Homo sapiens: one gene and its partner. The protein of the gene in region 2 purifies or fractionates together with the protein of the main gene of each other region. This does not show direct contact. Each region holds a gene or a part of one and is shown on either strand. Other genes may lie near its edges.

Region 1 (3,500 bases), on a different chromosome or scaffold from region 2:
TCTTTAATGAGAAAAGAGTGACAGAAGGGTAAAGGCATTTTCTTACCTTCCTCTTCTCATAGTCTGAGAACCTGTTCTGGGAGGAAAAAAAGACAGTGGTCAAGAGAGGGTGGCAGCAGTGGTTCTCCCTGGCATGGGCACCAGGAACCCCCGGGTGGCCTGATGTTATACAAACTCTGGCCCACCCCAGACCACTGCCTCAGAATGGTGGGGTCGGGGGATGAGGGGATCCGTATTGATCAAGGGCACCAGGTGGTTCCAGTGGACACCTGATGAGAACCCCTGGGCTGTCACTGTGTGCATGGCACTGTAGGAGGGGCTCTTCAAGACAGTTCTGGGATGCAGCCCTGAGCAGGGATGGTGGTCTGAAGAGCAGAGCAGGAAATGGGATATCTGATGCCCATGGATGTCTGCGTAACACACCTACAGCACCCGGTTCCAGTCCACCAAAATACTCACAGTGCACAAAGGTGTGGGTACAACTTCCTGCAGAATTATTCAAAAGAGCAAAAACACTGGAAATAACTCATACATCTATCAACATCTGTCCGTAAGTCATGGTGCATCCATACAGTGGACTATTACACAACCGCCAATGGGGCGAATGTGTGAGATCCCTCACCTGTGTGTAGCATGATTCTACTTTTGCAAAAACATCATCAAGAAAACTCAACTCTGAGCATATGTGTGAAGGTATTGAGTCAAAGGTCAAGAAGGACAGTCATTAATCAGTTAATGATGACTACCTCCAGGCAACGGGAGTGCAGGGTGGAAGGGTTGACATTCACTTGGTTTGTAATTGTCTGTATTGTTTAAATTTATAACAAGGAGCAGGTATTAAACATCAATAATGTAATGTAATTATTGGTGTTTAATTAATTAATTTATTATTGATGTAATTAAACAGCAATACACATATACACAAGAGTTAGGTTCTTCTTTTTTTTTTTTTTTTTTGAGACGGAGTTTTGCTCTTGTTGCCCAGGCTGGAGTGCAATAATGGCACAATCTTGGCTCACTGCAACCTCCACCTCCTGGGTTCAAGCAATTCTCCTGCCTCAGCCTCCTGAGTAGCTGGGATTACAGGCACCCACCACCACACCCGGCTGATTTTCTGTATTTTTAATAGAGACAGGGTTTCACCATATTGGCCAAGCTGGTCTCGAACTCCTGACCTCAGGTGATCCATTTGCCTCGGCCTCCCAAAGTGCTGGGATTATAGGCATGAGCCACTGCGCCCGGCCCACACAAGTTTTTTCTTTGTGATGGAGTCTCACTCTTGCCCACGCTGGAGTGCAGTGGCACAATCTCAGCTCACTGCAGCCGCGACCTCCTGGGCTCTAGTGATCCTCCCACCTCAGCCTCCTAAGTTGCTGAGACTGCAGGCACGCACCACCATGCCTGGCTAATTTTTTGTATTTTTGGTAGAGACAAGGTCTTGCTATGTTACCCAGGATGGTCTCAAACTCCTGAGCTCAAGCATCCACCCGACTCGGCCTCCCAAAGTGCTGGGATTATAGGCGTGAGCCACTGCGCCTGGCACACAGGTATTTTTTGAATGGTCCTTCTATTTAGTTATCCTGTTTTGAGAACAGGATCAGTCTCTGAATTATAAAAGCAGCAACCTATAAATAGGATTTTGCCTATACTAATGGTAGGAATATAATTTTAAAATTAATCTTCAATTATACAGATAACATCTCAATATATTCTCCTTGTAAAAGTTTGAAACATGGTATAAAAAACTAAAGCATCTACTGACCACTCCAGCCTAACCCTGGTTCCCCTCCCACCCCACACCTCCTGTCAGGTGTAACTGTCATTATCAGGCCCAAGGCATGCATCTGTACATATATAATTTGTGCCTTTGGGAAAGAAATATATTTGTATTTGTGTGCATATATAAACATTTTTTTAATCAAGTATAATCTATTTACTCTAATTCACCCAATGTTAGTGAACAATTCTATGAATCTTTATATATGCATAGAGTTCTGTAACCTCTAAACACAATTAAGATAGAAAACAATTCTGGCTGGGCGCGGTGGCTCATGCCTGTAATCCCAGCACTTTGGGAGGCTGAGACAAGTGGATCACTTGAGTTCAGGAGTTCGAGACCAGACTGGCCAGCATGGTGAAACCCCGTCTCTACTAACAAAATGCAAAACTTAGCCAGGCGTGGTGGCAGGTGCCTGTAATCCCAGCTACTCGGGAGGCTAAGGCAGGAGAATTGCTTGAACCTGAGAGGCAGAGGTTGCAGTGAGCTGAGATCATGCCACTGCACTCCAGCCTAGTGTGACAGAGTGAGACTCTGTCTCAAAAAGAAAAAAGAAAACAATTCCATCACCCTCGAAAATTCGCTCATGCCACTTCATCATCAAATCCTCTTCCCACTCCAGCCACTGGCAACTACCTGTCTGTTTCCTTTTTTTGTTTTGAGTTTTCTTTTTCTTTCTTTTTTGAGATAGGGTCTAGTTCTGTTACTCAGGATGGGGTGCAGTGGTGTAATCTTAGCTCACTGCAAACTCCAACCTCCTGGGCTTAAGCCATCCTCCCACCTTAGCCTCCCTCGTAGCTGGGACCACAGGCACGTGCCACTATGCCTGGCTAATTTTTTTGTATTTTTTGTAGAGACAGGGTCTCGCCACATTGCCCAGGCTGGTGTTGATTGAGTTTTCTTTTTAAACATAAGAATGGAAATAGACTAGCCCATCCTGTTCTGCAATCTGCCCTTTTCACTAATCCATGTGTCCCAGCGAGCCGAGGCTCAAATGCTCCATCTCATGGTGTGCACATGACCCAGGGGCAGTGCCTTCTCACTGACAAACATTTGGGGGGCATCCAATACTACAAATAAGGCTGCAATAAACACTCCTGCAAATGTCTCCTCATGCAAGCATTTATCTTGGGTATACATTGAGAAGCGGAACTTCTGGATCACGGGCTGTGCCCATGAAAATTTTTGACATCTGGCGGGTGTGGTGGCTCACACCTGTAATCCCAGCACTTTGGGAGGCCGAGGTGGGCAGATCACTTGAGGTCAGGAGTTCGTGACCAGCCTGGCCAACATGGTGAAACCCCGTCTCTACTAAAAATACAAAATTAGCCGGGCATGGTGGCGCATCCCTGTAATCCCAGCTACTCGGGAGGCTGAGGCAGGAGAATCACTTGAACCCGGGAGATGGAGGTTGCAGTGAGCCAAGATTGCACCACTGCACTCCAGCCTGGGCAACAGAGTGAGACTCCATCTCAAAAAAAAATAAAAAAATAATAAAATCTTTTTTGACACCTACTGTCAAATTATCCTCCAAAGTTGTGATACCAATTTTCACTCCCAAGAGCAGTTTATGAGGACACCTGTTTTCCCATACTCTGGCCAACAGAAATTGTCATGTCAAAATGTGTGCCAATCTTGAGGAAGGAAATGGTATTTCAATGTTGTTTTAACTTAACATGCCTCTCCTCTGATTACCAGCAAAGTTGGCATTTTTAAATGTTTG
Region 2 (4,233 bases):
TATCTCCAGCAGGAAATGAGAGATTCATCTGTGTTCTGCTTGAGTAGATTGAAATCTTAGCAAATTCCATTTAGAGAAAGGGGCGTGGAGAGGGGCTATTAGGTTCAAGGGGGTGGGTGGGGGGAAGATAACAAAAATGAAGGGAAAAGAACCAAGAAAAACTAGAAAAACAGCTTCAAAAACACGCTTTCCTGGCACAGCTTGTCACATTTATTTTCCTAAGTCTCCAGGAGGACTATTTGAACAGAAGTGTCTGTATACCCTGAGATTCCCACGCTGGCAGCCTTTGAGAAGCGAGAAGGAAGAGGACTCTATTCCGCCCCTTGAACCCTTTTCTATCCTATATGAGATGGCTCCTTAGAGATGGTGGAGGAGAGCAGAATGTGGCTAGTGTGTTCCGGAGATGAGTGGCATCGGAGGTCACAGCCAAGGCTGGTAACTCTTAGCCCCACCCACCTTTTGTTCCTTCCCCCTGGCGCTCAGCCTCACCTATTTCAAACTCTTTCCTTCTTTTGTACTAGTCGCTCGCAATCTTTGGCCTTCTCATCTTTGGCCGTCTCATCTTCCTCGCAGCCTACGGCACCTGGAGACCAAATCAACCCCCAATCTTGCAACCCTCCAGGGACTCAGGCAGAAACTGGGCATGCTCAGCGGCACGGGCAGCTTTCAGTCTTTCCCGAGGCGCGGCTCAGCGCTGGGCAGGGACCTGCGTGCCAATTCAGTTCGGGCTTCGGCACCCACCTCCGCTGAACCCAGGGATCCGAGCTGCACCCTGAGGCTAAATCTGCACCCTTAGGTGGTTCATTGTCAATCTTCAACCTGCTGAGCGCCAACAGAGCTTACAAATATTCCTCATTAAGAAACTGTTTTCCCACCTGTGTTTTCCTTGCAGCTAAGGGTGCTTTAGCTACTGCGGCGTGAGGAGCTCAGGGACGGAGCCCTGTGGCCGGTGGCCGTAGAGATCACCTTCCCAGAGTAGCTGTTTGTCACTGAGTTTTGGAGATTTCTTGGCTGGCTTCCGCTAAAGCACGCTTGAGTAATCCGAGCTGTGGCGGCGCCCAAGCTACCAAGATAAAGAGAGCGTGTGTGTGTGTGTGTGTGTGTGTGTGTGTGTGTGTGTGTGTGTGTGTGTGTGTGTTAGGGGGAGAGGGCGGGGATAGAAACGTCAACCCCGCCGACCCCCAGCCTCCTTTTCTCTCTCTCCTTCCAGCAAAACCGGCACAAGTCTTCCATCCCCCCTCAGCCATTCCTTACTGCTCTGGGCAACCGCCAGGTTAAGCCCATTTGCACTGGGAAATTGGCGCTGTTTGGGAGAAGAGAAACAGATCGATTGCCCTTGTGACTCCCCGCCCCCTTCCCACCCCACCCCCACAGCTCCCTCCCTCTTTCCCTCCCCCGCCACCTCCCCTCACCCCGCCTCCTTCCCGTTCCCCACCCCCAAACCCTCTCACCCGCGGCAGTCCGGTGCGAGGCCCCCTCCGGAAGGTGAGGGGAATGGATTGGACTCCGGTGGGGAAAGCGGGTGTCTAGAAGTGGTGCTAATGGGAAGAGAATTCTGGTTTCAAAAGAGGATGCTCTGCCACAAAGAGCGGCTCGCGCGCTGGCCTGGGCTCTAGCCGAGGAGAGATCCCGGGAGAACTCCAGAGCTCCGGGGGAGCGCTCCTCGGAAGACCGGGGCCAACATGCCTGTGCGCAGGGGGCATGTGGCACCACAAAATACATTTCTGGGGACCATCATTCGGAAATTTGAAGGGCAAAGTAAGTTCGTTTGTTCTCTTCTCTCGCCCTCGCTTTCTGCCTTGTTAGTGCACTTGGCGTCCACCGCTTCCAAGGTGGGGAGACCGGCAACTCCAGGCTCTGTCAACTTAAGAGGCTGTGAAACCGAGCCAGGAGGTTCGAATGGCAGCGGGAGTGTTCTTCTGATATTAATTTTGATTTACATTTTAGATTACGGTCTCCATTATAGGAGGCAATTTGATCCTCCTCTACCACTGCTCCATTATCTGCCTTGCTACTTAATTTCCTACTATTCTACTATCTTAAAGGGAACGTGCTAGGATAACATGGGTTTATATTTTGAGGCTGTTTTACTGTAGACTTTCTGAAAGTCGGAAGCAGAGCAGACCATACTATTCGAACAAGAGAATGTAAATGGTAGTAGCGATGTAAATGACTATGCAAACTATATTTTACCTTGGTTAAACTGCAAAGCAGTGGTATGACACGGATGCTTGCTTGCTATTAATTTATAGAAGCTAAATTTTGTATTGAATCAATGCAAATATATCCTAAGCAGGGTAATTTGGAAAAGCAGTATCTCATCTGTGCTGGTTCCCGATGCAAATGGCTCATTATTCAAAATAATATTTCTATTCTTTTATTATCCCCTTAAAATTTCCATCTAGAAATTTAAAAATTGAAGTGTAATAAGTAAATCCCACAAAGACTGAATGCACAGAAATTTAATGTTCTCATGTGGACTAAATATAGGGAATAAATTGTTGCTATATAAATATATTAATTTAAAATCCTGTATTTGTTAACTTATCTTCGGTCTTTTCTTAAAACTATATTAATACATTTGTATGCCATATATTTTGCGGTTATTTCAGCACTGCATTTAGTGATGTGAGGATCTGGTACCTTGCGTACAAACTAAACTTGTATATCCTGCTTCACAATCTATGTGGAAATAGTAAATACAATCTGTGATGTAAATTAATAAGCTCTTTATATTAAGAATTCCTGCTACTACAGAAAACTTCAAGGATCTCCCAAAGTAAAAGTAAAAAGGTTGTCATGATATTTACTGTGTGTGTGTAAATATTTTTCTTTTGGGAAATATATATTATGAAAATGTGAATCTTTGCCTTGTTGAATTGCTATTAAATATGAAGTAGTTTCATTACTAAAGCTAGTTGCCTTTGTTTTTAACATGATGTGTGTAACATGCCTAAGAGAGATAGGGAGAAGCCAAAGAATAATAACTACTTTGAGAAAGTTGTATTCAAAGGGCCAAGGTTGAAATGAGAAATCTGACAACTACAGAATGTTTCACTGTTTGACTTTGAAAATATTTACATTACAATTAAATGACATTCTGAAAATATCAATGGGCAGCTGCTTGTCTGAGTGTCCACTAGGAACCCCCGCAGTTGCAGGGCTTGAGAACTAGTCTATTTGGGAAATTCTATTCTTGCAATTTTAAGAGTGGTTTCTTAATACTTTCTGTTAAAATTACTTAGGATCATTAATCTCACATTTAAAGTTTGTGGGGTTTCTTGTGTTTTCTTTTTTCATAAGGGCTGGAGAGATTAGTAATTTGGGGAGGCACCTGCATTTCAGAGCTCTTATTATGCAACAAATTGCTTCAGTGTTACGGAGAATATTGTGGAAGCTTTTTCAAAGATGCCATACTGTCTTCTTATTACAGATAAAAAATTTATCATTGCAAATGCCAGAGTGCAGAACTGTGCCATCATTTATTGCAACGATGGGTTCTGTGAGATGACTGGTTTCTCCAGGCCAGATGTCATGCAAAAGCCATGCACCTGCGACTTTCTCCATGGACCCGAGACCAAGAGGCATGATATTGCCCAAATTGCCCAGGCATTGCTGGGGTCAGAAGAGAGGAAAGTGGAGGTCACCTACTATCACAAAAATGGTAAAATTCCTCTATTTAGGATTCCTTCTATTTGATCCCATTGAAAAGAAATTTTGACTATTAAAAGTTCATATGCAAAGAAGCCCAAAATGTTCAATTGTAGATATATGCTTTGCATATAGTATTTTGGGATCCAACATATATGGGTATTCTGATTAGTGGTCTGGTAGAAACAATTTTTTCTTTGAATAAGGGTACTGTAATCTCTTCAAAAGTACAGTAACATAATGTCACTGAGGTTAAAATGCTACAAATCAGTCTTAGATGCTCCTTTCTTTAAGGAATTAGAGAAAGATGAACAATGTACTGCTTGCATTGGTATGCATTTGGTAGGCGAGAAATACAGATACAGTGTTACTTGTTTGAACTTTAAAATACTCCACAAAGCAAATTTATGTTGAAAACTATATCTAAAACTAAAACTATTACAGTTATGTCTCTTGGCTCTTTAGCTTTAGTTGATAGGCAACACCTCTTGTTTCTTTTGCTCCTTCTTACAACATTAAGGATGATAAATAGGAACTTTTACCTTGATCCAGTTAACCTGTGCATATTCAAACAATAAAGGC

The links.
Region 1: the proteins of KCNH7 (region 2) and LRSAM1 purify together in Homo sapiens (affinity purification with mass spectrometry; one large-scale study listed by BioGRID and IntAct). This does not show direct contact.

Annotation. Positions count from the first base shown.
Region 1 is NC_000009.12:127,475,510-127,479,009, reverse strand, and holds part of LRSAM1 (E3 ubiquitin-protein ligase LRSAM1), read right to left. Parts: intron 77-3,500; coding exon 47-76; intron 1-46.
Region 2 is NC_000002.12:162,835,968-162,840,200, reverse strand, and holds the start of KCNH7 (voltage-gated inwardly rectifying potassium channel KCNH7), read left to right. Parts: upstream 1-1,433; 5' UTR 1,434-1,682; coding exon 1,683-1,758; intron 1,759-3,433; coding exon 3,434-3,664; intron 3,665-4,233.